2 linked regions of the Homo sapiens genome follow. The protein of the gene in region 2 interacts with the protein of the main gene of each other region in a pairwise test. Each region holds a gene or a part of one and is shown on either strand. Other genes may lie near its edges. The genes, in order: CIB4 and TACO1.

Region 1 (15,207 bases), on a different chromosome or scaffold from region 2:
TCCAAACCTAGTTCTTTCATGCCTGGCCTGGTGCCCTATCCCTAGTTCTCTAGGTGGGGCAATGGCTCAGGGTCTTCAGTTCAAAAGACGGTTCTGGCTGTTAGAGACCAGATGGAAAAGCAAGAAAGAAACCCAAGTAGAAAAAAAAAGCAACATACAAAAAAAAAAAAAAAAATCAATGGGATCCAAATCAACATGTATATATCTGCATAGAAAAAAAGTCTGGAAGGAAATAAGCCAAAATGATTGTGGCAGTCATCCCTTGAGGTAGACTAATATATCATTTTAATCTTTTTTTTGTTTTTCTGTGTTCTCTAGTTTTTCTACAATGAGCTGGCTCTTATTTGTATAATAGAATAAAATCATGACCATTTAAGATTAAATCAGAAAAGTAAAATTAAAATCATGTGGCCAAGACTCCACTTCCCAGTTGCTCTCCAGTGAGCAAGTTCGGGGGGAAGAGGGGGTCTGAGACTCCAGAAAAGGTGAAGCATCCCAGCCCCGGCCTGTGCACCTAGCCTATCTGCTGGGAAGAGCAGGCCTCACCCCACCTGCCCCATCCCAGGTCTTCTCAAGCCTTGCTGCACCCCACCCCTAACCCCAACAGGCTCCTCACCCATGACATGGAAGAGAGGAACAGGGGAAGCATAAAAGATAGTGCAGAGGACAATGGCTCACCTCCACCGGGTCCCTTACCCAGCACAAGGTGTTCATATTGGTTTATAGATGGGGGGATATACATGCAAGGAGTGTGATAGCTCCAGGCCCAGACTCAGCCCTCCTGATCTTAGTCCAGTGCTTACTCCTTTGGGGGCCAAACAGAGACTCCAGGCCCTACTGAGACAAGGCTATTGCTGGAGAAGGATGTGTTGAGGCCATGGGTCACCAACACCCTCTATGCCACCCCTCCAGTTCGGCTCCCCTTGGGCCCTCTGTGGCACCTGGAAGACCCAGGCACATGGTCACTGCTCAGCCAAGCCTTGATTAGAATAGGAGGCTCTGCCTGGGCCAGAGTTCAAGCTGACTCCCCCAGAGCAGGAACTAGTCCAGACTCTTCCATCATGTGGCCCCTTGGAAGTTGTTTCCCTCTTGGGACCTCAGTTTCCCCATTAATAAAATCAGGGTGAGGAGCATTTGACAGTGACTAGACTGGGTGGTCTCTAAGTTTCTTTCCAGTCGTAGCATTCAGAGAGTCTGGGACTGACCAGTGACCCTGCACCCACCCAGGGGAGGGCAGAAGCTTCCCATCAGCCCTGCCTGTCTGGCTGGCCCTGACCCCGGGTCCCTTAGTGGATGGCCTGGGTTTGAGAGAAGTCCCACCCACATGTGGTGGAGCCCATGCACGTGTACACATGGGGTGTGACTGTATGAGGGTGAGGCCAGGAAGTGGGGGGTGCCAGGAAGACCGCCTCCCCATTTTGTTTCTGTCACAGTCACAGTCTCCGATTCACTCACCTTTCTGAGGTTTCTATTTCTTTCCCCTCCAGAATCCCAGCTTCTCCCAGCTACCCCCACCCACCTACCCACCCCTCACCCTTTCTCATTATTTTGTCTTCTCCACTCCTGCCTCTATTTCAAGACCCAGCTTTGTGCATTTTCCTCTGTCTCTGTCTGCCCTACAGATAGGCCTGTCACTTAGGAGGGGCCGTGCAGCCGTGGCTTGAATGACATGTCTGTGCCCCCTCCATGTCCCTTCCTCAGGAGCCAGCCTCCTCCTCCCTGGTATCCCCAGGCCTCTTCCAAGTGGTGGCCACAGTTCTCAGAGCCCAGTTCGTTCCAAACAGAAACGAAGATGGGCTCTCATTGAACAATGACAAACTGAAGTCATTATTCTGCCAAGAACCGAATGAAAAATAGAGAAGCCTGACGTAGCCATGATTTGTTAACGTGACATTTCCTCTCAATGCAATGCACAAATTTTAATTAAAATCTCAGGAGTGATTTTGGAGTCCTTTATTGTGTGCCTCTAGGCTCTTCCAGGCTGCCCTGGGGGAAGGGCAGGGCCTCTTCATAACAGGGATAAAGGCTCAGATAATTGTCCCTAAAGGATTGGGAGGTGGGGGGAGCAGGGACAGCTCAGGCTAGCACTGCCTGTGGGGCCAGGAGTCTTAGAGTGCACATGGTCACTCCCAGCCTCCCCCCACTGCTCTACCCATTTTACAGGTGAGGAAACCAAGACCAGGGAAGGTTTGCCAAGGACCCATCCACAGCAAGGGTGTGTGTTTGTGGGGGGTGGGAGTGTGTTCTAGGTGGTTGGAAGGTGAGATTCAGCCCAGGACAAGTTGTGGAAACTGGGAGGGAATGAGCATTCAACCAGCCTTCTGTGTAACAGGAGCCTCCAGCCCAGGCAGCGCTGGCTGAATTGAGGGCGAGTTGAGGAGAGAGAGGATTGCAAGAGCAGAAATGCAAGCACCCTTCTTTCCTGCAGCCACTCCTGGAGCTGGGAAAAAGGCAGGTTGGGAGGACAGTCTCTGGGCCCCGAGCCCTGCTCCTCCTGTCTTCTCAGAGAAGAACCTGAGAAAATTCTCAGTCCCTCTAGAAAAGCCCCAGTCCATTGAGGCAGCCTGAGGAGAAGAGAAGGGCTGAGGGACTGGGCCGATGGCTAGGGTGGCACCCTGGCTTCCTCAAGGCCTAATGGTCCTGCAGGGGATCCTGGCCTAGGGTCACTTGCCCTAGTTTGGGGCACAACAGACAGCAGAGGAAACTGGCTGGTGTGGGGTCACTGGGGTGAGGGTTAAGTAAGGAATGAGCAAACAGAGTGGGGTGGACTGCAAGCTGAAGCCCATCTAAAGACCCATAGGCTGGCCTCGGAGGCTGAGCAGCAGGGCCAGTGAGCACCTCCAGATGGGGCCGCCACCTCCCACGGTAAGGCCTGGAGCAGGTCTCATGCCCCATCTGCCCCTGGCCCCACCTGAGAAGTAGTGACTGTTATCACAGGGTCCTGCTCTAGGACCGAGGTGAGGATGGAGGGAGGCCAGATGCATGCAGGAAGTGTTTGGGAGCCATGTCCTTGCACTCCTCTGCCTGGAGGATCAGGAGCCCCTTGGAGTGAGGTGACCATCCCACAGCACGGAGTGCCCACCTCACCCCACCCCTCCCAGCACCCATCAGCCCATCAGCAGGTCCCACTGATGCTGCCCTTGCCCCACCCACCATCCTGGACTCACCCGCAGAGCTGGCAGGGAGCTGACCTGGTCCATGGTGAGCGTTGCCTCCTTGTAGTACTTCCCAGGAGGGCAGAGCTTCAGGAAGGTGTCATGGATGCTGAAAAGAGAGGCATGAAGACCGTGTGGCCGGGGAAAGGAGGCCAGCACTGTGTGGCCGGGGAAAGGAGGCCAGCAAGCCTGTCTCCTGCTGCAAGGGGTGGGGGTGTCTCTTTGAGGAAGGAGACTTGGGGTTGGCTGACACAGAAAAGGCAGTAATCAATAATAATAAAGCGCAGTAATAAATATGTCTTCTAGAAACATCCCTGGACCCTCCAGTGTGCCAGGCACACCATAGAGGATGCAGAGATGAGCCAGGTGAGAGGAAAGTTAGGCGAATATGCCCTGTAGCGAGCAGCACACTCTACGAGGGTTCATCATAGAATGTCAGAACTGAAGGGGCTTATGTCCAGTCCCTCGGTTACGGATGGGGAAGCCAGTAGGACCTTGGGGAAGCCAGGGTCCCCACCTCTGGCCATCTGCCAATTTCCATCCTCAACCCAAGAAAAGAGGTCACTTCGTGGGTCTGAGTGAGCCGGGATTAGAGCCCGGCTGCCTGCAGCCAGCAAACCACCAGCCTTGCTAGGCCACTTGACAGCAAACTTGGTTGCAGCAGATCGTGGACTGACTGGTCTTCCTAATCATCCCTGTCAGCGATGTCTCTTGTCTATAGGATCCCATCCCAGTCAAGAGGATTTTGCTTATAAGCTACAGGCAGAGGGTGAAATGGCCGTGTGACCCCTGAGAGTAAGAGGGCGGGAGGGAGCTCTGCCTCAGGCTAAGAGAGGATGAGCCCTCATTGCCTGTCTCTCTCACCCTATCCTGAACCTGGGTCCCTGTCCACCAGCAAGCTCTTAGGCCTACAGGTCCAGCACCCAAGGCAGCCAGTGGAGGTGAGACAGTGGTGCCCTGGGGCCCAGGAGGCCTGGATCCCAGAACCTGAACTGCTGTGGCAGGGCTGTGTGACCTCGGGCAACTCACTTGACATTTCTGAACTTTAGTTTCATCATCTGGATAAGGGACAAGAATGATATGTCTCTTGGAGGGCTGTGGCGGGGGTTCAGTGTGAAGGAGGCTGAAGGGTATGTGTGTTTATGTATAAATGGTGGATGGCGGGTGGTGGGGTCACCACAGGCTGGTTGAAAACACTGTCTCTAGAGCCGGACAGATCTACATTCAAATCCTGACTCTGCCACTTAATAGTTCTGAGGCGTCGAGCAAGGTTCTGAATCCACCTGAGCCTCAGTCTGCTCCTCTTTGCAGTGGGGTAGTAAATCTCCCCCCACACACTCGTGAGGATTAAATGAGGGGAGGTGTATGAAACGTCAGCGCAGTGTTTGGTAGGTAAGAGTGTTTGTGTTACCCGGGGCCTCAGAGGGGACACCCAGCCTGCCCTCTCTCTGTGTTTCTCTCCTATACTCCAGGTGCCCCTGTGCTCCTGGGCTGTGCACAACCCACACCTAGACTGTGAGAGTGGGAGCCCACCACCCTGACCCAGACCTGCTCTCCCCTCTCTTCATGGTCCCCTCCATGCTCCAAAATTACCCCTCCCTCCTTTAGTCCTTTCCTGTTCCTCTCCTGTCTTCCATCAAACCTCTACTCTCCTGAGAGGCCAGCAATCCCATGAAAGGAGTCTGTATGCAGGAGTGAGTGACTAACAGTCCCCTATTGACATTCCAGGGTATGTGGTTTGTTGACTCAAATGAGGCTCTGATTGGTGGAATTTAGGGACATGTAACTAAGTGAAGACCGGGTGCGGCGGCTCATACCAGTAATCCCAGCCCTTCAGGAGGCTGAGGCGGGAGAATCGCTTGAGCCCAAGAGTTTGAGACCACCCTAGGCAATACAGGGAGACCCCATTTCTACAAAAAAATTGAAAATTAGCCAGGCATACTGGCACGCACCTATAGTCTAGCTATTCAGGAGGCTGAAGTGGGAGGATCACTGGATCCCAGGAGGTTGAGGCTGCAGCGAGCTGTGATCGCACTACTGCACTCCAGCCTGGGCGACAGAGCAAGACCCCGTCTCAATAAACAACAAAAACTAGGTGAAGAATTTGGAGGGTGATTTTAGGAGTGGAGACTCAGAGGTAGAGCAGGAAGCAGGAGGCTCTCCCAGAGCCCTGACGATGGTAGGTGGAGGCCTCGCACCCTGCCAGCCACTCACTGTTTCACATCTCACTGACTAGAAAAACATCCTTCAGCTCCCAGCCCTGGGAGAGTGGAAAGAAACTATGCTGGGATTCTGTGTGCCCACTGCACTCTGTGCCCTGGGAGGCTGATCTCTACTGACAGTGTTCCCACCTCCCTTTCCCTCTGGCTTAAGGGAAGCTCCAGGAGGACTGGAGGTATGAGGGATGGGTGGGGATTTATCCTCCTCTCCCTCCCAGCCCCACACGACTCTGCAGTGTCTGTGTTCCCGCTGTCTCAGGCTAGCAGCCAGCTTCTGCAGCTCCAGCTCTCAGCTATCACCTCAGGCCTGGGGCAGTCAGGGCTGGCCCCTGGGTGCTTCCCTGGGCCTCCTTCTGAACAGTTCCTTCACTGCAAAGCACCTTCAAAGATCCTGCTGAGTGTGCCACCTGCTTCCCGCCGGGTTGCTCACAGACCTATCTGGATCTATCTGGATCCTATTTCTCTACCTCTAGCTACGAGACCCAAGGCAAACTGCCGGACCTCTCTGAGCACGCAGGCCCAGGTTCATATCCTGACTCTGTCTGATGGAGAGCCAGCCTCCTTCCAGTGGCATTGTGCAGATCCAGGCTAGGGCCTGACAGATGGGAGCTGGAGTGGCGTGTGGTGTTCATGGAGAGCACCATGACTGCCGCCTTGGCCACGGAAGGGGCCTGAGCTGTCACTAGGGTCTAGAGACTGCACACGTTTGGGAGGGAGCAGAAAGCAGAGTGTGGAACGGGTTGGGGGAGAGATTCTCCAGGAAAGTACTGGGGTGGATGCTGGGAACCACAGGTCAACAAGCAGGAAGAAAAGCCATCACTGCTGAAGTGTCCAGTGGCCTACAAGGGGCGAGGGGTAGGCCGGGTGCAGTGGCTCCTGCCTGTAATCCCAGCACTATGGGAGGCTGAGGCAGGCGGATCACTGGAGGTCAGGAGTTCGAGAGCAGCCTGGCCAACATGGTGAAACACCAACTCTACCAAAAATATAAAAAATTAGCCCAGCATGGTGGCGCGCATCCATAATCCTAGCTACTCCAGAGGCTGAGGCAGGAGAATCGCTTGAACTCGGGAGGTAGAGCTTCCAGTGAGCTGAGATTGCGCCATTGCACGCCAGCTTGGGCGACAGAGTGAGACTCCATCTCAAAAAAAAAAAAAAAGAAAAAGAAAGAAAGGGTTAAGGGCAGTGGGAGTGGCCGGCTCCAGTCAAAAGGAGCATTTTGTCACTGTCATAGTTAGAATTGCTGGCTTGAGGTGATAAAGAACAGACCCACTTTCAATAAGAGCAATTTTCAACAAAAATTAATGTTTTGGTTTTTTTTTAAATCCCTAAGGCAACGCACAAGTGAGCTCGGGCTCCTGCCCCCACCACGGGCACCACCGGGAGTGCCTGCTCTGTGTAGCCAACTCTCACGGACATTCTGCATGTTTCATGCCAGTCTTGCAAGGAAGGGACCATTGTTTCTTTTACAGATGAGGAAACTGAAAGTCAAGTAGGTAAAATAATCTACCTAAGGTCACACAGTGGTAAATGTTAAAGCCAGAGATACAAACACCAAAGCTCGTTCCCCAGGAGGCATCAGGGGCTGCTGAGGGGCAGAAAAGAAACTCACCAGCCCTTGCCACCCTCTCATGACAAAGCCTCTGTGCCGGGTGCACTCACACACATCATCTCACTGAATTTTCCCAACAACTCTCTGTGGGAGAAGTGGAGGGGCCATCATTTCTACAGATGGGTAAACTGAGGCTCCGAGAGTTTAAGTGTTGTATCTAAGGTTATACAGCTGGGAAGAGACGGAGTGGAGGGCTGAACCCTAAACCAAGTTCTTCGGGCTGTGCTGCCCACCCCTAAAGGGCCCACCCTTCTTCCAGGTGAGAGACTCGAGTCACCCCCCTGGAAAGTCCTCTCGGGGAGGGTGCTGGTGGGGTGCCTGCCTGGAGTTGGTGCCTTCCCAGGCTGCAGAGTGGGCGGGCTGCCCATAGATGAATCGTGGCTGCATCTCGGCTGCCATAAAATGTTCTCCTCCTCCAAATATGGATCAGCTGGCTCTAAATGGAACCCTGAATTAATCACTAATGGACTCAAAAGTCAAAGCCATTTGAAAAACTCACACATTCAGCCTGCCAGCAATCCAGCAGCCTGGGCCATGGCTCCCTTCCACACAGCCCAGAGAGGCAGGAGGGGCTGCCTGCGGGCTCAGGGGCTGGCCCTAAGACGGGTGGAGGTCACTCTGCTGCTGACTGTCCGTGGGACCTTGGACTCGCCAAGTCCCCTCTCGGGCCTCAGTTTCCCTTCTGTGAAATTAGAGTCCCAGCATCCCCCCAGCTCCCTCCAGTTTAGGTATCCTATGACTCTAGTCTTTCGTGCCTCTCTCTGGCATCCCATTTACCCCCTTGCCTCTGAGACCCTCTAGCTTAGTAGTTCTCAACGGGGTCCCACGTAAGAATCATGTAGGGAGTTTGTAAAAGGATCTGCCCTCCCCACCCCTTGAAGTTCTCATTCAAGGCCAGGATAGAGCCCGAGGCACCTACAGGTTCTACAAGCTTCTCAGTATTTCTACTGCCCCAGAGAGATCAAGAACATGACAAACCCGAATTCCCACTCCTCAAGTCCCAGCTTTCTGGCTTCACCCCCACCCCACGGGGTCAATAGTCCTTTGCTCTACAGTACTGCCTGCAGATAGTAGATATTTTCTAAATGGTCCTTCTTTAGCCTGAAAATGTGGCTTTTAGTTCCCTGATCTGCTACTTGCAATCTGTGTGGGCTTGAGGAAATTACTTCATTTCTTTGAGCTGATTTCCTCATTTGCAAAAAGTAGGGATAATAATACCATGATAGTAACAGCAGCCACGTAATCGGTGCTGACCCATGTGCCAGGTATTGCTCTAACAATGACAGATTTGATCTTCTGGTTGTCCTAATAACAACCTTGTGAGATTAGGTTCTATTTCCCTCAACTATTTTATAAGGATGGAAACTGATGCTCAGGGAGGGTAAGACACTCCCCCGTGTTTGCACAGCTACTAAGTGGCAGAGCTGAGCCTCAAACCCAGGTCTTTGGCTTCCAGGAAATAAACCTGTAACCACTCCACCTGCGGCCTTGAGGTGCCCGTTAATGGCCAGGACAGGGCCATGGAGTCTACAAAGTGTTGGAACCTCCAGAGGTTCTAGGAAGAAAGGCCCCATGGCTGGGTCAGCCTGAGCAGAGGCTGGAAGCAAAGCTTCAGGCTCCTAAACCAGACCCCACCCCACCCAAGAGAGTGTCAGGAACCATCCCAGGCAATGCAGAGTAGTCCGAAGAGCTCGGGCTGAGCCAGGCTGACCTGCGCCTGAGACATAGAGGTCTGGGCTGGAGTCAGGCTGTGCCTTGCCCAGGAAGCCACATGGGCCCTCTTTGGGTCTGCAGGGTCTGCACGGTCTGCAGTCACCGCCGGAAGGGCCTGGGCCCAGAAGAGGCATCTCGGGAAAAGGCTTCTTCTGGGACAACCAATTCAAACAGAGTCAGACAATGCTGCCCCGATGCTAGGGCGGAAAGGGACCTTGCTTTTGCTGAGATCAAAAACATGTGAAAGGAAAGTCTCATAGGCTGGAAACTTAGAGTGAACAGACCTCTTCTTGGAGGGCCAAACCAAAGCAGCCCTGGACTGGGAAGGTGCTGGCTCCAAGACAAGTCTAGAACATGAGGTCTCCCCCCACCAGCCCCCAGGAGGTGTCATCTGCAGATCTGGTGACCAGGCCTTTGTGTCCTTATGCAAGTCACAGATTAAAAGGTGGGAAAATATTGGACAGAGCCAGCCTCCCTGCAAAGGTTACTTCTACCTATCGGTCTCTTGAATACTTTTTTAACTGGCTAAGTCCATCCAACTGTACTGCCATCTGGGCCACATTTCTCTATGACACCAATAGGAAAATCACAAGGCATTGTCAGAGGCCACAGTGGAAAATCATTCAAAAGTGACCAGGGCTTCGTCTGGCTCAACTTGGCCTTGGTAGCCCAGGATGGCCACTTTCTCCGTGAGTATCACATGCCTTCTGCTCCCTGAGCCAGAGAAGCTGGGCATCCACATCACAGCTGTCCCCTCACTTTACAGACAGCATGCCCACACCAACCCTAACATATTCCACTCCCCAGGGCCCCACCAAGAAGATAACCTATTATCAGTTTCTGTGTCTGCTTCCAGGGATATTCTCCTCTGTGTATGCATGTATGAACAGCCCTTTATTTCATAAGAGCAGTAGCAGCCTGTATGTACTGGTCTTGTTTGCCAAAGTAATACAGTTAAATAGATTAAAAATGCAAATAGTACTGTGATACTGTGAAGCTTACAATCAAAGTTACAAATACTCCATACCCCACACCACCTCTCTAACCCTGCTCTCCAAAGGCAGCAGTTTGCAAGCATTTTGCTATTTCACTTTGTTTTTGCTTAATATTTACATGGTACTTCCAAATGCTGTGCTAATACTGCCTTTGCTGTTGTTTTCACTATAGATACTATCTTGTGACCTCTTAGTAGAAAAAAAGAGGATTTATTTCTCTATATATACTTCTTTTCCTTTCCCCAACCTCCCAATATAAAACAATTTTCCTGAATGAATATTCAGTGTTTATAATAATATTATATATCGTATATGCATTATTCAAACATTGCTCAAGCTGAGTTCCCTAGTGCAACATGATTACTTCTTTCCTGCAAGTCTTTTTGTTTTTCCCAGAATGAATAATCACTTTCAGTTTTTTGCCTTGGTTTTTGTGTGCCTATCTTTATTTCATCTCCAAACTTTCTGCAGAAATAAGTACCTCTCAATATGGTATCTAGATAGATTCATTTTGTCTCTTAGAGACACCACTCTTGGAACCCCTGACTCCCTAATTCTAATCTGGACTGATTGCTTTCCAGGCCGACTGTCCTGCTGTCATCCTTCAGCTTCCCTTCACTATCTTCCTTGTAATTCGTTTTGCCTCTAGGTTGAAAGCCTTTGTTTCCCCGATCCTGGGTCTTCTTTTTTCTTGGTTTACTCGCTAGTTTTAATGAAGCACATCTCCCAAAAGCTTCCTATGAAAAGGTCCATAAGAGATGATTTTTTTAATTTGCATGACAAAAAGTATTGTTATCCTGCCCTGACTCTTGATTAATGGCTTAGCTAGAACTTATTTCTAGATTGAAATTTTTTCCTTAGAATTTTGAATGTGTTTAGCCACTGTCTTCCAACATAAGTCCAAAGCTATTCTCATTCCTGATTCTCTGTAGTCTGTTTTGCTCTCCGTGGAAGCACTCAGGATCTTCTCATCATCTCTGCCAGTCTGAAATGTCATGATGGCATGACTTAGTGTGTGTAGGCCGTTTTTTATTCTTTCCTCAAATACCTGGTGTCCCTTAGCTTTCGATTTCTACTTACAGGGAGGCTCTAAAATGCTGACCAGAAGCTCACCCTGCTCTTCATCATGCTGGTGGCCCTGAGTCAGGGGCCTGTCTGGCTCCAGCTCTCCCCAGATGGTTAGCTCCTGTCTTCCGCTGGGGCAGGGCAGGGGTGCCAAGTTGATTGTGGATTGCAGAGGGAGAGAGAAGGAATCACATAAGACTTTCAATCTGCCTTTCTGTTTTCACCTGATCCTGCATCCTGGCATTTGGAGGTTCCTGAGCCTTTCTGCGTTCTCGATTCCATCATCCAACCCCTGCAGGCAAAATTCTTTCAACTTTCTATTCAGCTAAGTCTGCGTCATGGGTCTATCTGCTTTGCACTTGTAAAATTTTTGTTGACCTCTCTCATCTGCTGTCATTGCTTGTGTTCTCTTTGTCCTTATGGGTTTCTTTCTTCTTCTTTTTGTTTTTTTTAATTCCTTTACTCTCCTTTTAGTAAACAGAGGTCAAAGAAAATGCTCTATTCTCCACGTAACTGGAAGCCCCCTGAACTTTGCTTTCTTAACTTAATAATATACCTTGGAGATGGCTCTATATCAAACAGAAAGCTCTTCCCCTCCTCTCTAAGGGCAGTCTTCCACAGAGGGATGAATCAGCACTTACTTCACCTGTGTCCTCTTCATGCAAGTGGAATGGCTGGGTCAAGGTGTACTTCTCATTTTGAACTGGGACATTTCAGCATCTCCTGCCTTCGCTGGTCCTCTTCCACTCTTCAAAGCTCTTGACAGCTATTCCACATTCTCAGCTGCTTCCCAGGCTGTGGTCTCCTGGGTCTGGAGACTCCCCTTGGTTTAAAGCAGCAGAGGGCTCTCACTGGTATCACCTTCCCATTTGAGAGTTTCTGCACTGCTGTCCCTGGCCCCACTAGTGCTTCTCACTCTGTCTTATCTGAAGGTGTCCAAGTAATAGGAGTTGGATACTTTGCCCTCTACTCTGCCTTCCTTATGCAGTGGCGTCCCCAACCCCACCACCCCCAGCGCTGACGCACGCCGGCCTTTGAGAGTGGGAGCCTCCTGAGCAGGAGCTACCCAGGGGCAGGCACAGGCCCTTCATGCTCAGGAATGGGTCTCTCAAGAGAAGGGGCAGGACAGAAAGAGCTTTAAGAACTGCTTGTTAGAGAAGTTTGCACTGAACCATGAACCGTGAACTGTGAACTGGAGCCTTCCCTGGCAGCACTCACAGGGACCCACCTCCCCAACACAACGCGGAGCCAAACTGTGCTCTTCTCCGGGGAAAGGCACCTTCCACAGGGATGGAAACAGACTGGAAACAGGATCTGGGAGGAGGTCGTCTCAGGTCCTGGGTGGGAGGTTCAGAAGGGAGGCGTCCATAAGCATGGCTCGCTTCCAAGGAACTCTTTCTCCGAAGGCCAAGGCAGAACAAATGAAAATGGAGGATCGATGTTCGAGAGAGAGCCTGAACCCTTCCCATACTCCTCTCACTCCTCTCGTCCACCACCCCATGCTCTCTCCTGGCATATAGGAGGAACCCCAGGGGTGGATCCATGAATGCCATTTGAAGCCCCTGGGTTAGAAAGAGGGGCAGGCATGGCCATGCCCCCTTGCTGAGAGTACAAACTGGTGCAACTCCTTTGAAGGACAACATTGTCTCACCCATCGAAGTTCTAAAATGTAGGCCGGGTGCAGTGGCTCACCCCTGTAATCCCAGCACTTTGGGATGCCAAGGTGGGAGGATCACTGGAGGTCAGGAGTTTGAGAACAGCCTGGCCAACATGGTGAAACCCTATCTCTACAGAAATACAAAAATTTGCCGGGCGTGGTGGCAGGCACCTGTAGTCCCAGCTACTCAGGAGGCTGAGGCAAGAGAATTATTTAAACCAGGGAGGCACAGGTTGCAGTGAGCCAAGATTGCACCACTGCACTCTAGCCTGGGAGACAGAGCAAGACTCTGTCTCAAAAAAAACCCCAAAAGCTTAAAAAAAAAAAAGGTACAGAACAGTATGAAGGGATAAATGCAACCATGTGAATGGGGTAAAAGGAGGATAAATGTGTTGGCTTATGTATGGAAAATTCTTCCAGAAGGCTAGATGGTAAGACAAACCAACAGTGAGCAGAGGCGGCCTTGAGGGAAAAGGACTGGGAGGAGAGAATGGAGACATTTTCTTTTCACTTAGAACTTTTACACTATTTGAATTTTCTTTTTTTTTTTTTAAATTATATTTTAAGTTCTGGGATACATGTGCAGAACATGCAGGTTTGTTACATAGGTATACACATGTCATGGTGGTTTGCTGCACCCATCAACCTGTCATCTACATTAGATATTTCTCTTCATGCTATCCCTCCCCTAGACCCCCACCCCCCAACAGGCCCCAGTGTGTGATGTTCCCCTCCCTGTGTCCATGTGTTCTCATTGTTCAACTCCCACTTATGACTGAGAACCATTATTTGAATTTTGAATTTTCTAGCCAGGTAGCATTTTTTTTTAGATTTCATTTTATTTTTATTCATGTGATACTTTTCAGAAAATTTCAATAGAGGTTATATGGGTAGTAGGATATGGGTCATTTGGAGTTATGTCATATTTTTCTATATTTAAAAAAGTGAGTGAATATTATTTTCAAAAGGGAAACAATGTCACTGGGTGACAGCCCCTGGTTAGCTCCCCGTGCCCTGGCCATCCCCCATCCTCATTTGTGCCTGGAGAGTCTTGCACTTGTGACAAAGTTGTTACCTGCCACCACCAGACCCTGAGTGGGAAATGTGGCTTCCGTGTGGTGACTGGGGAGGGTTAGTCCAAGCAAAGATGATGAGAGGGAACCTTCCCCCACCTTCCCCTGAAAGTGTCTTGGTGAGCTCCTTTATTCATCTAACAGGTTTTGTTGGGCACCTGGCTTGGCCCAAACACACAAACACACACACACCTCTCACACTATTCACTCTCCCCCACAGCCCCACGAGAAGGGTATTTGGCCACCTCCACGTTGAATGAAGTTTCTTCCCCACTGGACAGCGGTCCGCATGACAACAGGGAGCGGGGCTGCTCACCACCCCACCCTCAGGGCCTCCACGAGGCCAGCACATCACAGGCACCGGAGAAAGGGCAGGGAGGGAGGGAGGGAGGGAGGGAGGTGGAGAGGGAAGTCTGGGCTTCAGTCATGCATCCAAGTTTACCCAGCCAGTGGACAGCCAAAATGGGCTTCAGACATAAGTTCCCCAAGTCCTTTCCTTGTTCTCCTCATTATTCCAAAGAGGTTCTGTCCAGCTCCATGATCCTCTGAAGAAACCTCACTTTGGATCCCAGTAAAAGGTTAGCAGCCTAAAGCCTGGTGTCTCATTCAGCTCCAGTGGGGCTCTGCGGATCGTGGCCCCTGGGCCCTCCCATCCCTGCCTGCCGTGTCCCAGCCCCATCTCCAGGGCTGTGTGGCTCTGAGCAGGGACCACACTCAGGGACCAGCGTGAGGCTGTATTAGGGCAAGAATCCAGCTCAGAGGGAGGAGCTGGGAGAAGGAAAGAGGGGCGGGGCTTCTACTCACCACAGAATTTCATTTCTGGTCAGGAAGGTCAGGGCCTGCAACAAATCACAGAGAAGCGACGTGTCCACTCCATTCATCCCTGCTGTGGCCCCTGGGGAGTGGCGCAATTCAGAGGCTGGGGAGGAAATGCCCATTCTTTTGCTGCACAGCTGGGGGAACCCCAGGTTGAGGTGGATGCCTGAGGTGGCAGCAGGAGAGGAAATGGTGCTCTTTCTTACCCCCTAGTCTCTTACAGCCCTGGGAAGGAGGGCATTGGCACAGATGTGGAGAGCAGATCAGAGACAAGAGTGAAACTCTGGGCTCTGGTGCAGGAGACAGATGGAGGAAGGTAACCTTAGAGATCTCATCTGGGCCACATGGATGCAGATTTAGCAAAGAGAGGGACCACCGCTACCCCGCCTGGTAAACTCTAGAGCAAGCTTGTCCAACCCACGGCCTGCAGGCCACATGCAGCCCAGGACAGCTTTGAATGGGGTCCCAACACATATTTGTAAACTTTCTTAAAACATTATCAGATTTTTTCGTGATTTTTTTTTATTAGCTCATCAGCAAGCATTAGTGTTAGTGTATTTTATGTGTGGCCCAAGACAATTCTTCTTCCAATGTGGCCCAGGGAAGCCAAAAATTGGACACCCCTGCTAGAGCGTCAGGAAGGAATTTTCCCATTCATTCCACCTGCTTTAGGAAGCTCCCACCTCTGCCCAGAGTCCCTAGCCCGATCTACCCACCTGGTACTCTTCCAGGTCCTCCCAGTGCATCTGATACCTCAAGCATTGCCCCATGCCAACCACACCTTTCTGTCTGCCAGCAGTAGAACCTCAGCCTCAAGGACTCGCCAGCTGAGGCACCTCGTTGATCCAGTTGCCATGGTGACCTACATTCCACCTTCTGCCCATTCCACCTGAGTTACTGAGTTG
Region 2 (15,964 bases):
TGAGGATTCGATGAGATAACACACATAGAGTTTTTATCCATGCTTAGCCTGCAGGAAGCACTCAATAATTTTGAGCTATTAAGATAACTATTACTTCCTCAGAGCCTCCCTACCTGCCCCAGAGAAAGGTGTACCCTTACGTGGACTCTATATACCTGCCCCTCCCACCATCTCTATCACCCCCATCCTCTCCCTTTCTACTGGCTTTTCTCCTTTAGGGCATAAACATCTGAAAAACAAACACTTCCTCCACCTAACGTAAGGGCTTTCTCCCACACTGCCCCTTCTTTCTATAATACCTCATCTCCCTACAACTTGGCTGAGCAGTCCCGGTCTTGACTGTATGGCCCTGCATACTGCCTATGCATCCTACTCCCAGTTGTGCTCCTAGAACCAATGACCAAGGACGGTGAGCTCTCAGAAGACTCTAGGCTGAGGGCGTCAACTACATTGCTACCGTTCTCTCTGATAATTTTTTTTTTTTTTTTTGAGACAGAGTCTCGCTCTGTCGCCCAGGCTGGAGTGCAGTGGTGCAATCTCGGCTCACCGCAATCTCTACCTCCTGGGTTCAAGCGATCCTCCACCTCAGCCTCCCCAGTAGCTGGGATTACAAGCATATGCCACCACGCCCAGCTAATTTTTGTATTTTTAGTAGAGATGGAGTTTCACCATGCTGGCCAGGCTGGTCTCCAAACTCCTGGCCTCAAGTGATCCACCCACCTTAGCCTCCCAAAGTGCTGGGATTATAGTCGTGAGCCACTGCACTTGGCCCCTCTGATAATTTACAGTGTGTTTGTTGGCCATCCAGACATGAGCCCGGTAGAGGCTGTGATCAATAAAAAGCATGTCAAACAGTACACACCTCCATTTTCAGTGCTGTCTCAATCGTTGACTTGGGCATATGTTTGCTGCGACACACCTCTAAGATATTGGCCAGGTTGCTGTTGTGCTCAGGGTTGGGGCCTCCTTCTGAGATTTAAAGAAAAAGAAAAAAAAGAGTGAGCAAAGACATCTCATTACAACATGGGAGAATAAAAGGGATTTCCAGCCCCACCAAGCCAAAGGAGTGGCAAATCACCATTTAGCTCTCAGTTACCTTAGAATACCTTAACTAGTGTTTCAGTGGGATACGGAGAAGTATTTTCGGGTTTTTTTGGTTTGTTTTTTGAGATGGAGTCTCACTCTGTTGCTGGCTGGAGTGCAGTGGCACGATCTTGGCTCACTGCAACATCCACCTCCTGGGTTCAAGTGATTCTCCTGCCTCAGCCTCCTGAGTAGCTGGGATTACAGGTGCACACCACCACACCCGGCTAATTTTTGTATTTTTAGTAGAGACCAGGTTTCGCCATGTTGGCCAGGCTGGTCTCGAACTCCTGACCTCAGGTGATCCACACACCTTGGCCTCCGAAAGTGCTGGGATTACAAGTGTGAGCCACTGCCCCTGGCCTGGATAAGTATTTTGGAAAAGTACTTTTTTTTTTTTTGAGACAAAGTCTCACTTTGTCACCCAGGCTGGAGTGCAGTGGCATGATTTTAGCTCACTGTAGCCTCAACCTCCAGGGTTCAAGCGATCCTCCTGCCTCAGCCTCCCAAGTAGCTGGGACCACTGGTGTGCACCACCACACCCAGGTAATTTTTTTCGTATTTTTTGTAGATTCAGGTTTTCACCATGTCGCCCAGGCTGGTCTCAAACTCCTGAGCTCAAGTGATCTGCCTGACTCGGCCTCCCAAAGTGCCGGGATTACAGGTGTGGGCCACCATGTCTGGCCAGAAAAGACCTTTTTTTTGAGACAGAGTCTCACTCTGTCATCCATGCTGGAGTGCAGTGGCATGATCTTGGCTCATCTTGGCTCAATGCAACCTCCCACTCCCGGGTTCAAGGGATTCTCCTGCCTCAGCCTCCTAAGTAGCTGGGATTACAGGTGTCTGCCACCATGCCCAGCTAATTTTTGTATTTTTAGTAGAGATGAGGTTTCACCACGTTGGCCAGGTTGGTCTCGAACTCCTGACCTCAAGTGATCCACTCACCTTGGCCTTCCAAAGTGCTGGGGTTACAGGCATGAGGCACCGTGCCTGGCCAGAACTTTCTAATTCATTGTCTTTAGGGATGGTTTTCATTCTGCTAGGTTTCAGCGATCTCTACTTTGTGTCAGATGAAGAAGGGTTATAGATGGTAACAACACTTCCTGGACTCATTACTGCTCTTACTCTACTACTTTGTGCATAATAATTATTTTTATTTTATTTTATTTTTATTATTATTTTTTGAGACAGAGTTTTCCTCTGTTGCCCAGGCTGGAGTGCAGTGGTGTAATCTCGGCTCACTGCAAGCGCCGCCTTCTGGGTTCACGCCATTCTCCTGCCTCAGCCTCCTGAGTAGCTGGGACTATAGGCGCCCGCCACCACCACGCCTGGCTAATTTTTTTGTATTTTTAGTAGAGACGGGGTTTCACCGTGTTAGCCAGGATGGTCTCGATCTGACCTCGTGATCCGCCGGCCTCAGCCTCCCAAAGTGTTGAGATTACAGGTGTGAGCCACCGTGCCCAGCACTTTGTGCATAATTATTGAAATGTTCACATGACATTGTGATCTGAGGGTAGGGGCTGTATCTCATCATCTTTCTAGTACCAATGGCATGCCTGGCACAAAATAAACACAAGTTGGTTGAACTTCATTGGGATGCAGTGGCTGATACCTGCAATCCCAGCACTTTGGGAGGTGGAGGTGGGTAGATCATTTGAGGTCAGGAGTTCGAGACCAGCCTGGCCAACATGGTGAAACCCTGTCTCTATTAAAAATACAAAAAAATTTAGCCAGGCATGGTGGTGCACACTTGTAGTCCCAGCTACTCCGGAGGCTAAAGCAGGAGAATCACTTGAGCCTGGGAGGTGGAGGTTGCAATGGGCCAAGATCACGCCACTGCACTCTACCCTGGGTGACAGAGTGAGACTCTGTCTCAAAATAAATAAATAAATAAATAAATAAAAGTTGCTTGAACTTAATATCAAGAATTTTGAAGAAAAGGAAGCAAACAAATACCAGGCATGAGCTGAGGGGGTAAATTAACATTAACTGAATGCCTATGATGTGCCATAAACCATAAACTACCTCAAGGTGGGTATTATCCTTGTTTCAGAGAAACTCAAGTTAAGCTACTTGTTCAAGGTTAGTCAGTGACAGAAACCAGTCTTCCTGACTCCAAAGTCCACAGTTTCTCTCTCTTTTTTTTTTTTTTTTTTTGAGATGGAGTCTTGCTCTGTCACCCAGGCTGGATGGAGTACAGTAGAGCAATCTCGCTTACTGCAGCCTTCAACTCCTGGGTTCAAGCAATTCTCCTGCTTCAGCCTCCCGAGTAGCCAGCATTACAGGCATGCACCACCATGCCCAGCTGTTTTTTTTTTTTTTTTTTTTTGTTATTTTTAGTAGACACAGGGTTTCCCCATGTTGGCCAGGCTAGTCCTGAACTCCTGACCTCAAGTGATCTGCCTGCCTCTGGCCTGGGATTACAGGCTGTGCCACTGCGCCCAGTCCAAAGTCCATGCTTTCTACAGGACTTTTCCTTTGCTCCTACAGATGTCTGGCCCTAAACAGAAAAAAAGCCTTTTCAGTGTGGCGACCTAAGGGAGAAAAGACATGGCTGCAAATCTACCTTCCAAGGAAATGTGTCTTGGGGAAACATTAATGAAGCAAACTAAGGCCTAAGCTAAGGCCTAAGCACTTAAGTAATAGCTTTACTCAGTGCCCCTGCCACAACCAATAAGGTACTTGAGGCGACTTCAGAGGGGTTGATTTGTCTCTTCAGGAGAGACACACATCTGCCCTGACTCTTAGGGCTTGTTTCTATTAAGTACCCAGCTAGATTAGGATGAAGTCACTTCTACCTTACCGGCTTATCTTCTTAAGAGCAGCTCCCTCTCTGACAAACTGGCCAGATGCTCAGCGTCTGGAAAAGTGAGTGAGAACCTCCAACGTAGGGTAGGTGTTTTGAGGATTTATGAGGTGGGCAATGGTGGGTACTGGGGAAGGAAAACAAAGTGAAGGGCCGGAGATCTAGGTGGGCCCAATTCCGAGAGGCAAGCGAGGCTGCGGGCACTGAGAGGGCAGCGGCAGCCAGTGCTGGGTGACCGTCAGGGTCTCACCTTTCACTGCCAGGCGGATGTTCAAACAGAGTTTGGAGAAGATGCGACTCCTTTCGACGTCCTTCGGACCCTTGATGTGCCTGACTTTGGACCACTTGTTGTGCCCGGCGGGGACAGCCGCGGTAAAGTGCAGCGTCCTGCCCGGAGCGGCACCGCAGCCCCGGGGCTCGGGGTGGGAGGGCCGGGGGTCGCGCGGAGGAGCCGCCCTGACCCCGGGGCCTCGTGCCAGCAAGCATCGGGCAGCGGCCCTGCTTAGGCTGGCAGCAGCCCAAGCCGACATCGGTCCCGACCCTGGGGTTCAAGCTGCTAGCAGCAGCGGCCAACGCCGGCGCGTCTCTTCCACTGCCGGAACAAGCAGTTCCGGACCCCGCGGCCGCCTGTGCCGGTCACCTGAGATCCAAAGGCTTGGGCCCGCCCGGGGCGGCTCAACAGCTAATGACCCTACACTGTCCCCGCGGCACCCGGGACTGGGGGCCCTTGATGGCGTAGCACACTTCCTTTACCGGGTTCGCTCCAAAAACACGTCCCCACTGCCCGCAAAGTCCGTTCCGTGGCTGCACGGTACTCGCTCCTCTCTTGCCCTTGAGCAGATCTAGTTAGTGCTCAAGCCCTCACGGTTGCCTAGAGAGCGCCGGACTTTGTTTCTCATAATGTTTTAGTGGAGACACATCTGAGTTATGAAACTGACTTTGCTTCCAAATTGCTGCCTAAATCTGAGCAAGTCCAGAATGATATTTTGTTGTTGCCTCATTGTACTGGGAAAGAAACTGCTGCCAGAGAAGTGAATTGCCCAAATGTTTAATCTCTCTGAACGTCTTCCCTATTTATAAATAAGGATCTAATATTTGCTTTATCAACATAGGAAAGTTAGAAACACAAAATGAGCCCTTAGAGCTTTAAAGTAATAAAGTTTTATGTAAATAGCCACAGTGCACTTAAGCCCCTAGATGCAAGAGATGGTTTGGGACAGACTCAGATGAGTCACAGGCCTTTGGGAGAGGGAGAATGATCAGACAAGCCCTTTGGAGCTAAACTCCCCTCTTCATTTTCTCTCTGCTGTCTCGAAAGAGAAAACCGAATCCGTTAGAAGATGGAGAGAAACAAAGCGGCAGCTGCTGAAAAGCTTTGTAGTGACTCCCATGCTGGTGAGATTAAGTCCAAAGGGCATGACATATCAGGTAGAGAAGCAGGACAGCCGGGCGCGGTGGCTCACGCCTGTAATCCCAGCACTTTGGGAGGCTGAGGCAGACGGATCGCTAGGTCAGGAGTGCCAGACCAGTCTGACCAACATGGTGAAACCCCGTCTCTACTAAAAATACAAAAAAATTAGCCGGCCGTGGTGGCGCGCGCCTGTAATGCCAGCTACTCAGAAGGATGAGGCAGGAGAATCGCTTGAACCCGGGAAGAGGAGGTTGCAGTGAGCCGAGATCGCGCCACTGCACTCCAGCCTGTGCGACAGAGCGAGAATCCAACTCAAAAAAAAAAAAAAAAAAGAGAGAGAGAGAGAGAGAGAAGCAGGACAGTGTGAAGTCCAAGTTTGTGCCCTCTGCAGTTAGACTGGGTGGCTTCAAACCCTGGTTGTTCCATTTTCTAGTGTATCCTTGGGCAAGTTCCTTTACTTTCCTGTTTCAGTTTCCTTACCATAGAATGGCCTTGTGAGGACTAAATGGGATAATGGATGCAAAGCACAAAAGCATAGATTTTTTATTTTTTATTATATAAGAACCTCCATGGGGCTGGGTGCGGTGGCTCACGCCTGTAATCCTAGCACTTTGGGAGGCCGAGGCTGGCAGATCACTTGAGGTCAGGAGTTCAAGACCAGCCTGGTCAACATGGTGAAACCCCGTCTCTACTAAAAATACAAAAATTAGCCAGGTGCGGTGGGTGCCCATAGCCCTTCATACATGCTTGCACCTTAGCACTTACCTTTTAAAAAAATATCAAAATGTTTATATCTGTTTCTACCGTAATACTAAATTCTCTGAGAGTAGGACTGTACTTCCTATGCCCAACACAGTTCTCATTTTTTAAAAAATTAAGTTTTGACATATTTCACAGATCACACAGATCACCAATTCAAAGTGTACAATGTGTTATAGAATATTCAGAGCTGTGCACAATTGATTTTACATTTTCATCATCCCCAAAAGAAGTCCTGTACCCATTAGCAATCATTCCCTATTTCCCCCCAATTCCCACAGCCCTAGGCAATCACCAATTTACTTCTGTCTCTGTGGGTTTGCCTCTTCTGGACATTTAATATGAATGGGCCCACACACTATGTGGCCTTTGGTAACTGGCTTCTTTCACTTAGCATGATGTTTTCAGGATTCTTGCATGTTGTAGCATGTATCAGTATTTCATTTCTATTGCCAAATAATATTCCATTGTATGAATATACCACGTTTTATTTATCTGTTCATCAGGCAATGGACATGTGGTTGTTTCCACCTTCTATGATGAATAATGAGGCTGTGAACATTCATGTACACATTGCTGTGTGGACCTATGTTTTCACTTCTTTTAGTTATATACCTAGGAGTGGAATTGCTGGGTCATATCATAACTATGTTTAACCTTTTGTGGGATTGCCAGACTGTCTTCTAAAGTGGTTGTATCATTTTACATTCCCACCAGCAATATATGAGGGTTTAATTTCTCCATATCATGAATTTTTTTTTTTTTTTTTTGCTTTGTTACCCAGGCTAGAGTCCAGTGGAGCAATCATAGCTGACTGCAGCATAGAACTCCTGGGCTCAAGTGATCTTCCCATCTCAGTCTCCCAAGTAGATGAGATTACAGGTGTGAGCCACTGGCTAAATTTGTTATTCTTTTTGACTATAGTTATCACCATCCTTGTGGGTGAGAAGTATTATCTCATTGTGGTTTTGATTGTATTTCCTGAATGACTACTAATGGTAAGCATCTTTTCATGTGCTTATCAGCCATTCATATATAGTATTACTTTTTGCAATTTAAAAATAGTTTATTCAGGCCAGGCATGGTGGCTCACACCTGTAATCCCAGCACTTTGGAAGGCCGATTTGGGGCAGATAATGAGGTCAGGAGATCGAGACCATCTTGGCTAACACGGTGAAACCCCGTCTCTACTAATAATACAAAAAATTAGCTAGGTGTGGTGGCACGCGCCTGTAGTCCCAGCTACTCAGGAGGCTGAGGCAGGAGAATCGCTTGAACCCAGGAGGCGGAGGTTGCAGTGAGCCGAGATCGCGCCACTGCACTTGAGCCTTGGTGACAGAGCGAGACTCCATCTCAAAAAAAAAGAAAAAAATATATATGTAATATTTACTTTGAGAAGCAAAAATCAAATTAATGGAATTTGTAATCACAAATAAGTGTAGAGGCTAAAACAAGGTTTGAGACTGCCCTAGTCCAGTCAGCCTGAGACCAGCAAGGGAAACCTATAGTCTCACAGAGTTAGGCTTATCAACTCACTGCAACAAGGGAGACTGCACACCAGAGGAATGGTGAAGTGTCTTACCGAAGAAAAAACTGGTCATAGAATTATGGGGAAGGGTGGAAGTTAGGTGAAAAATTAGAGTTAGGCTCAAAGAAACACAGACCTGTGTGAAAGGCGGATTAAGATCAGCTGGACTACCAAGTGGACCCAGGGGATCAGTTTCCCTGGAAAGTACAAAGTCAAGGTAAATGTGGACTGTTGTGTTCAGAAGCCCCTGCTCTGAAGCACAATACCTGGCCTGGAAATCAAGGCTGCTTCTCTGTCAGAGTGACTCAGCTCCTCCAAGCAAGACTGACTATAAGCCTTAATTCTCACAAATACAATTGCAAACAGCAAACTTTGTCAGCCTATGATTTTGGAGAACGAAATTTCTCAGTGAATTTTTTTAAAACAGTAGTCACTCAGGGAGTTTTGACACTTTATGTTGCCAAAAAAAGAAAAAAAAATTGCAGTGTGTTCTTGATAGAGGTACTATATCCTGTTAACTGTGCAGCTGGTTTTATCTGTCTGTGCATCTGTGATGAATGGCAGGGCAGATTTTAACTCTCAGTCTGAGTTAATAGCCACCTTTCAAGATAAATTCATAGTTGACTGAACCATCTCTAGACGCCTGGCTGTCAGGCTCACTGAAATCACTTAAGTAACAATGAGCCTTGGAAGCTAAAGACTGGCTACAAATATCATTCCATTAGGTTTGACCATGTGTTGTCCAGTACTAACAGCTCTCAATGAATGAGATTACATTAGTTATTAGTCCAGATACTTAGCCGATTTGCTAGTATGGCTGAGACATAATTATTCACTACTTCACTTCCTTTTCCAGGGTACACAGGAAGACTACATTTCTTGACTTGACCTTCCTTGCAGTTGGCAGATAGGAGCAAAAGTGAGTAAGCCACTTCCCGGCCCATCCTGAAAAATGTACTCCCTCCCACCCCCCATAAGCAACCTGGAGGTCACACGTTTATTTTTATTTTTTGAGATGGAGTCTTGCTCTGTTGCCCAGGCTGAAGTGCAGTGGTGCGATCTTGGCTCACTGCAACCTCCACCTCCCGGGTTCAAGCTATTCTCCTGCCTCAGCTTCCCAAGTAGCTGGGACAACAGGCGTGTGCCACCATGCCTAGCTAATTTTTGTATTTTTAGTAGAGATAGGGTTTCACCATGTTGGCCAGGCTGGTCTCGAACTCCTGACCTCAAGCTATCTGCCCCTCCCTCCCCCCTCAGCCTTCCAAAGTGCTGGGATTAGAGAGTTGAGCCACTGCACCCGGCCCAGAGGACTTTGTGTAAGCAAAAAATAAGCTTTTGTAGTGCTCAGTTTCTGAGATTTGGGGGTTTGTTGCCGCAGCATAGGCTAGCCTATAAATAGTATTACTCTCTGTTTTCTCCTTAAAAACCAGAGAGCAGGACTCATGTGTTTCTCACAAAATATACATTGTCAGACCATATAGCAGCACAGTTCCAAAGGACCAGCAGGTACTCATAAAACTTAAATTCTCTGCCAGGCACGGTGGCTCACGCCTGTAATCCCAGCACTTTGGGAGGCCGAGGTGGGTGGATCATCTGAGGTCGGGAGTTTGAGACCAGCCTGACCAACATGATGAAACCCCATCTCTACTAAAAATATAAAATTAGCCAGGCGTGGTGGCACATGCCTGTAGTCCCAGCTACTCAGGAGGCTGAGACAAGAGAATCGCTTGAACCCGGGAGACGGAGGTTGCGATGAGCCGAGATCGCGCCATTGCACTCCAGCCTGGGCAACAAGAGCGAAATTCTGTCTGAAAAAAAAAAAAAATTAAATTCTCAAGAGCACATACTTCCCTTCACAGATCCACTGCCACCGGCTCCATATCAGCTGACACAATGGCAGGTACTTACCGAATACAGGTTCACGGAACCAATCAGTTTGCCTTTCTTCTCTTCCTTCACAGTGGCCCAACATGAAGAATAAAAATATAAATAAATGGGGGTAGTATTTCATCCAGGACACACAGCATTTGAAGAGCAGTGGGATAGGAACTCCCCCACCCTACCGTGTGGGGCATAGGTTTGGGAAATTAGCAGGGACTTGGACATTCCTAGTCAGCCATCAGAACCTGTCCAAATCCAAAAGATCTGGGAGTTATTTCTCTGTCCTCCTTCACAATCAATAAATTACTAAATGCTGATGACTGCATCCCTCTTTACTTGTGCCCTGTCCTCTCCATCCTTGCCGTGGCTGCTGCTGCCGCCGCCGCCTTAGTTCAGGGTTTTTCTCTCACCCTATAAGAAGGAAGAGGCACTTTTTCATTGCCTATCCTTCTAAAATGCAATTCTGATGACTCCTCTCTGTGTATGTTTTCCAGGATCATACAGAAGTGTAATGTCTAAAATTTCTGCAAAGCGGGAGACTTTCCCTGCCCTGGCTCCTGTATACATCTCTAGCTACATTTCCCACTATTCACCCCACCTCAACCTGCAATTCTCTAAATATGACCATACTTTCTTGCCTCCATAGATTTGCACATGGGTGTTCTCTCTGCCTTAAAGGACATTCCCTATTTCCAGATAACTCCTACTCAGCCTTCAAAACCCAGCTTAGGCATCCATCTTAAGTAGTTTTCGCTGACCCCATGTGGCTCCCACACAGGCAGAGGTGATCACCTCCTCCTGAGGGGTGATGCCTAAACACATCCATTATCGCACAACAATGCAAGTTATTTGGTTTTTTTGTTTTTTGTCTTTTAAAAATTTGGGTGGGAGGGGGTAGGGATAAAAGACTACCAATTGGGTACAGTGTACACTGCTCCGGTGATGGGTGCACCAAAATCTCAGAAATCATCATTAAAAAAACTTATTATCCACATAACCAAAAACCACTTGTTCCCCCAAAACTATTAAAATAAAATAAATGCCAGGTGCGGTGGCTCACACCTGTAATCCCAACACTTTGGGAAGCTGAGGCAGGCGTATCACAAGGTCAGGAGTTCGAGACCAACCTGACCAACACGGTGAAACCCCGTCTTTACTAACAATACAAAAATCAGTCGGGTGTTGTGGCACATGCCTGTAATCTCAGCTACTCAGGAGGCTGAGGCAGGAGAATAGCTTGAACCGGGAGGTGGAGGTTGCAGTGAGCCGAGATCGCGCCATTGCACTCCAGCCTGGGTGACAGAGCGAGACCCCGTCTCAAAAAAAGAAAAAAGAAATGCAAAAAAAAAGATTTGTCTTAGATCTTAGTCTGGCTAAAAGAAATTTTTTTTTTTTTTAATAAAAATGACTGATTGATTGAGACAGGGTCTTGCTATGTTGCCAAGGCTGGTCTTGAACTCCTGGCCTCAAGTGATCCTCCCACCTCAGCCACCCCCATGCCTCAGCTGGGATCACAGACCACTGTGCCCGGCCACAAGTATTTATGTAGATGTCTCCTCTGGTAGACTGCAACCAACTTGAGGGCCATGTCCCCTGGCATAGAGGAGGTGCTCCACTGAATTAACAAGTGAATGACTAAATAGGATATAAAAGGTGATGAGTAGACTGCCCGGCTCGGGCTGGGGCACTGCCACTGTCTATGGAACATGACCAAAGTGACAAAATGGGAAGAACTGAATTCGTCACAAAAAGAAATTCAGTCAATCTATACATGTTCAAGTTTTATTACAAAGTATGATGGGCAGAAAATACGGTACTTCTTATACAGGAGGCTGAAACAGAATGAAAGGGTGAAAATTAGGTTTAATTTACTTAGGAAACAAGAAATAGAAAGTCATAGCTATAACACTCCACTTTCAGGTGCCCATGAAGTAGCCTTCAATGGAGATTCCCCATAGTTGTTTCACAGCACAGTGTTAAAATTTTATTACAAGCCCTGTGTACAATCAGTCCTGTGAAAATATTTATAAAAGAAAAATATTACAGTACAGTTCTGCAAGGGGCAGCTTCCTCTACACCTGACCGTGGATGCCACAAAACCTATAATATAGAGGGAAAGTTTAAATATATAACAAGAATGGAAGTTCAGACATACTAGGCTAAAGGACACAGAAATGGATCAGTTAGAGCTTAACATTTCAGAGCAAGAAATCTCCATTTTCTACATAGAGGTTTATACAATCATGCTACAAATTCACTCTGGGTGGGGTGGGGAAGGAAGGTCACTGACAAGAGGGGTAGTAAAATACACAGGAACCAAAGCAAGTGAGTCAGACTCAACTAAATCGATTCAAAGCTTCAGCTCAACAATTTTCATAACACATGGTATACCACAATCAACCCAAGGTGAGAACATTTCTTTTAAATAGTAGATATCACATGTTCATAATCACTGGGTTGTCCCAAAGGTGGGTGCCTATAAACTTTCCAGCTGTTACATAGACTGTCAACATCTTTCTTCTTGAGTTTAAACTTTCTTTAGCTTATTTGTTTCTCGTTGGATATACCAGTCCAAGCCTCTTTGGGAAGGCACCTGCATGTTTCCATATTTTAAAAATGACATCCAGAAAGTAGCCTGAGAGGACCTGGCCCATCCCATGTGGCCACACATTTGACTTTGACCATTAGCAGCAGTGACACTGTGAGAGGGGGAGAAGGTGCAGGTGGGTGAAGTGGGCAAGGGTCTGCAACACGAGACGCTCTCAGGAGCTGGCCCAGCCAGGGCCTGGCCCAGGGTTCACAGTGACTTTGCTCTGCTCCGCCCTCTTCCCTGGGAAAACCAATCTAAGTATCAAGCATGATCTTCCTTCTTCGTCCTGGAGTACACACAGTAAAGGGAAAAGTCTGCTTTGAGGCTTCTACTTCAATGGTCTCCCCTACCCCAAGCCAGGAATGAAAGGGGCTGCCATATTCTCAAAGTGGGGAAGGCAGAGGGACAGTACTGGGCTGCCCTCCCACGTGTGGTAAACCCTGCAGCTGCTACATGTCTTCACAGCCCAGGAATTCAAGGCCCAGGTGGCAGCAGGAAGAAACAGTGGAAAAGCAAGGGGAAGAGAAAAGAGAAAAAGGAGGGGGAAAGTCTGCATAACTGTCATAACCTCTGCTTCTCCTGCTCTGTAACAAACCCACAACCAGGAAGAGTCATGGTCTGGAACAATCATGGGACCCCAAACGCCTGTAGGTTTTTTACCACCAAACATCACCCATGGCTGCTCTAAGCTGTCATTTTGTTCCCACAGTTACCTAGCATCACGGATGCCCAATTTATGGCCCAGGAAGGCTGACCCAGGCTAAGGGCAGTCTCACTCCACAGCCATGCAATGGACAGTCTGAATGTTTCCCTACCCCAGACCTTCACTGACCTCTACTATTTCCTCCTCTGATATAAAGAAAACACTTTAATTTTCTCCTGCATCCTACATCTCCTCCTAAAATTTTGGCCCTAATTGTCATCAAAACCTTGTAGGATTCTGAATTTTTTGTTTCTTCCTGAATCTTAGCCAGTTCTCTCAGAGCCAATCCTGGATTTATAAGGAATTTTCACCTATTTTTTTTTTTTTTTTATTTTTTGAGACGGAGTCTTGCTCTGTCGCCCAGGCTGGAGTGCAGTGGCACGATCTTGGCTCACTGCAAGCTCCACCTCCCAGGTTCACGCCATTCTCCTGCCTCAGCCTCCCAAGTAGCTAGGACTACAGGTACCCGCCACCACCCCCGGCTAATTTTTTTTTGTATTTTTAGTAGAGATGGGGTTTCACCATGTTAGCCAGGATGGTCTCGATCTTCTGACCTTGGGATCTGGCCACCTCAGCCTCCCAAAATGCTGGGATTACAGGTGTGAGCCACCACACCCATCCTCGCCCAGTTATTAAATACCTTCCCTCTTCAAGTCCTAACCTTGCAGGCTAATTCCTCCCTGGAAGAAGAGGATTCCAATGCTCCTGAGCATAAAAAATTCAGGTCCTTGAATGACGTGGACCCATTCTCCAGCTCTCTGGTGGTAGAGGCCTGAGGCCTAATTTATTCAGCACCTCCATCCTTCAGTCAGAACAGATGAGGACAATACAGGCAGCTGTGCCTCAGGCTGCCAGGAGCAAAAGGGCCATCACCAGCTGGGCCACAGCCTGGCGGAGCCTCCATGTGGGCTTCCTGCTAAAGTCCTAGTGGCTGCTCCTCCCGCAGTCAGGGAGAACAGATCCAGGGCCTCCCACCCAGTCTCGCTGGCTGTCAGTTTGAGAACCTCAACAAATTACAGAGTTGTTTTTGCAACTACAACAGATCGGTGCTTTCTGGAGCATGGATGGCTTACAGACTTTCTAAATCCTGAGACTGTAGAAATCCCCTCCTCAGTCATGGGTCGTCGGGCTGGTGGAGTAAAGGGAGGGTAAGAGAGCTGGGACTCAAAGACCAGCAACTCATCAACTGTGAGTATGTGTGTGCTTGCTTAGGGGGGTGGAGTCCCCCTGGGTCCCCGGTGGCATTCAGGGGAAGACTGTACTGCAGGACCTAAGGAAGGATGACAGGAGCTGGGCGTCCACAGGGCAAGGGAAATCTCAAAAGTTGTTGGTTTCCAGAGTAAATAGCTATCTTATGCAAATATGTTCTAATTATTATTTTTTTTTCAAGTTGTTGTTTCTGAGTTCCAGCTGACAAATTCCACCATACAGACCAGGCGTAGGTGCAGATCAGGAAAGGAATCTTAGAACTCAGTGGATGTAAGCCCTGCCCAGCAGACCAGCCCCTTCTACCACTGACTTCCATTTCAGACCCTTCTCCACAGGAAGGAACTGATGGCCTCCTAAACAAGCAGCCATCAGCTTGGCCTTGCTACCCTTGAGAGAAGGACCCAGTAACCATTATCAAACACAATGAAAAGCAGAGGAGGGTTCTGACCAAGAACTGCTCGCTTTGTATCTCCAAACGATGCAGTGCAAATCCAGTGGCAAATGCAGGAGAGGCAACCACAAGCACATGGCCAGCCAGAGTCCTAAAATCAGAACAACAAAGTAAAAGGGTAGAAGGGGAAATATGCTGGCTAAAAAAAGAGCCTTTTTCTTTGGGACAGGTCCCTGTATGGTAAAGCAAAGAGCTAGACTTTTGGCATATAATGACATCTACTTCTGAAAAGGAAGACTTAACCAAAAAAGCTTAAGGGCCCAGAAGAACAAAGTTACTGTTTTACTTCTCAAGCAGGTGAGAACCAAAGAGGACAAAACCATCATCCTTCAGGCCTGCTACTCTACTAATCTCAGATGAGCAATTCAGAGGGACTTAAAAACCTTCGGGTAGGAGCAGAGCGCAAGGAAACAGCCAACTTTCCCCCAAGAGCACATCCCAAACTGCCTGCCCCAAGGGCTCATCTAACGGTGGAATCACACATATGCCCCTCCATGGAACTCATTCACATAACAGAAAGACACCTGCGGCCTGCAAGTCAAAAGACAACTGCAGGCTACAAGTCCAATACTGCTCAGAACCTAAACTGGGGGAGAGAGGGGTTGACAGGTGTGGGTAGAGCTCTTAACTGGCTGACCCTGGGGGTCTATAATTCCTTTTCCTTCTTTTTTTTTCCTCCCTTTTCATTACCCACAGTATAATGCTTTTTAACTATCTATCCACTTGACAGCCCAGGATTGCCGCAGTCCATCAGTCCATCTCTCATGTAAGGTCTTGTTCAGGGTTGGAAGCACAGACAGGATGCCTCGGGAAGACTCTCTCACCTCAGAACACTCAATCCAAAGAATGCCCAATATACCACCAGGCACAGTAAACTCAAACAACAGAAGCACCGAAGTTCAACTCAGATATCATTCTTGCCTATCATTGAAAAGACACTAAGTGGAATGGCCTGGGGCTTATATTTGGATGGAAAAACAGACTCTGAAAGAATGTACTGGAAATATGCTTGAAGTTCAGCTTCATGAAACGATTCCCCTCAAGTCAGGTACCCTGAGAGCCTGTTTCTCTCAGCTCTACCATGCTGCCAGTGGGAACCAATGGGCTGGACAGTGGTGCTTCAGGGTAAACAGAGGCTTCCTATGTCTGTTTACAAGCCCAGAATGCCCTTGAGAGGAGCCAGGCTAAGAAAGGTGTGATGAGTCAGTGGACTTCAGAGCACCAAGGTGGTTTGGACTCCCGGTCAGGTATGTACTACACAGGCAGTGACTCAAGAAGGCAAACTGCTCATGGGGCCAGGGGCCCAGTACCAGCTCCAGGCACTGAGGGAAGAGAAGAAGGTGCAAAGAGGGAGGACTATAAGACAAAGAAATGAAGCAGGAGAGTAAAATTCTTTTCATAAAAAAATTAGCCTGATAGATAACAAATATACAAAGTTAAAATTTGTTAAACACACTGATACTAGGAGAAAAGACAAATTGGTATTTGTTCCCACGTAAGTGCTAACACGAACATGGACATGGACGAGACATGAACTGCTGCC

What was found.
Region 1: the proteins of TACO1 (region 2) and CIB4 interact in binary tests that used the Homo sapiens proteins (3 or more experiments, as listed by UniProt).

The regions. Positions count from the first base shown.
Region 1 is NC_000002.12:26,626,243-26,641,449, forward strand, and holds the start of CIB4 (calcium and integrin-binding family member 4), read right to left. Parts: upstream 15,125-15,207; 5' UTR 15,073-15,124; coding exon 15,019-15,072; intron 14,382-15,018; coding exon of another isoform or gene 14,326-14,381; coding exon 14,291-14,325; intron 12,398-14,290; exon of another isoform or gene 11,418-12,397; coding exon of another isoform or gene 11,398-11,417; intron 3,265-11,397; coding exon 3,168-3,264; intron 1-3,167.
Region 2 is NC_000017.11:63,589,539-63,605,502, reverse strand, and holds the start of TACO1 (translational activator of cytochrome c oxidase 1), read right to left. Parts: upstream 4,609-15,964; 5' UTR 4,420-4,608; coding exon 4,140-4,419; intron 970-4,139; coding exon 863-969; intron 1-862. UniProt on the Homo sapiens protein: Acts as a translational activator of mitochondrially-encoded cytochrome c oxidase 1.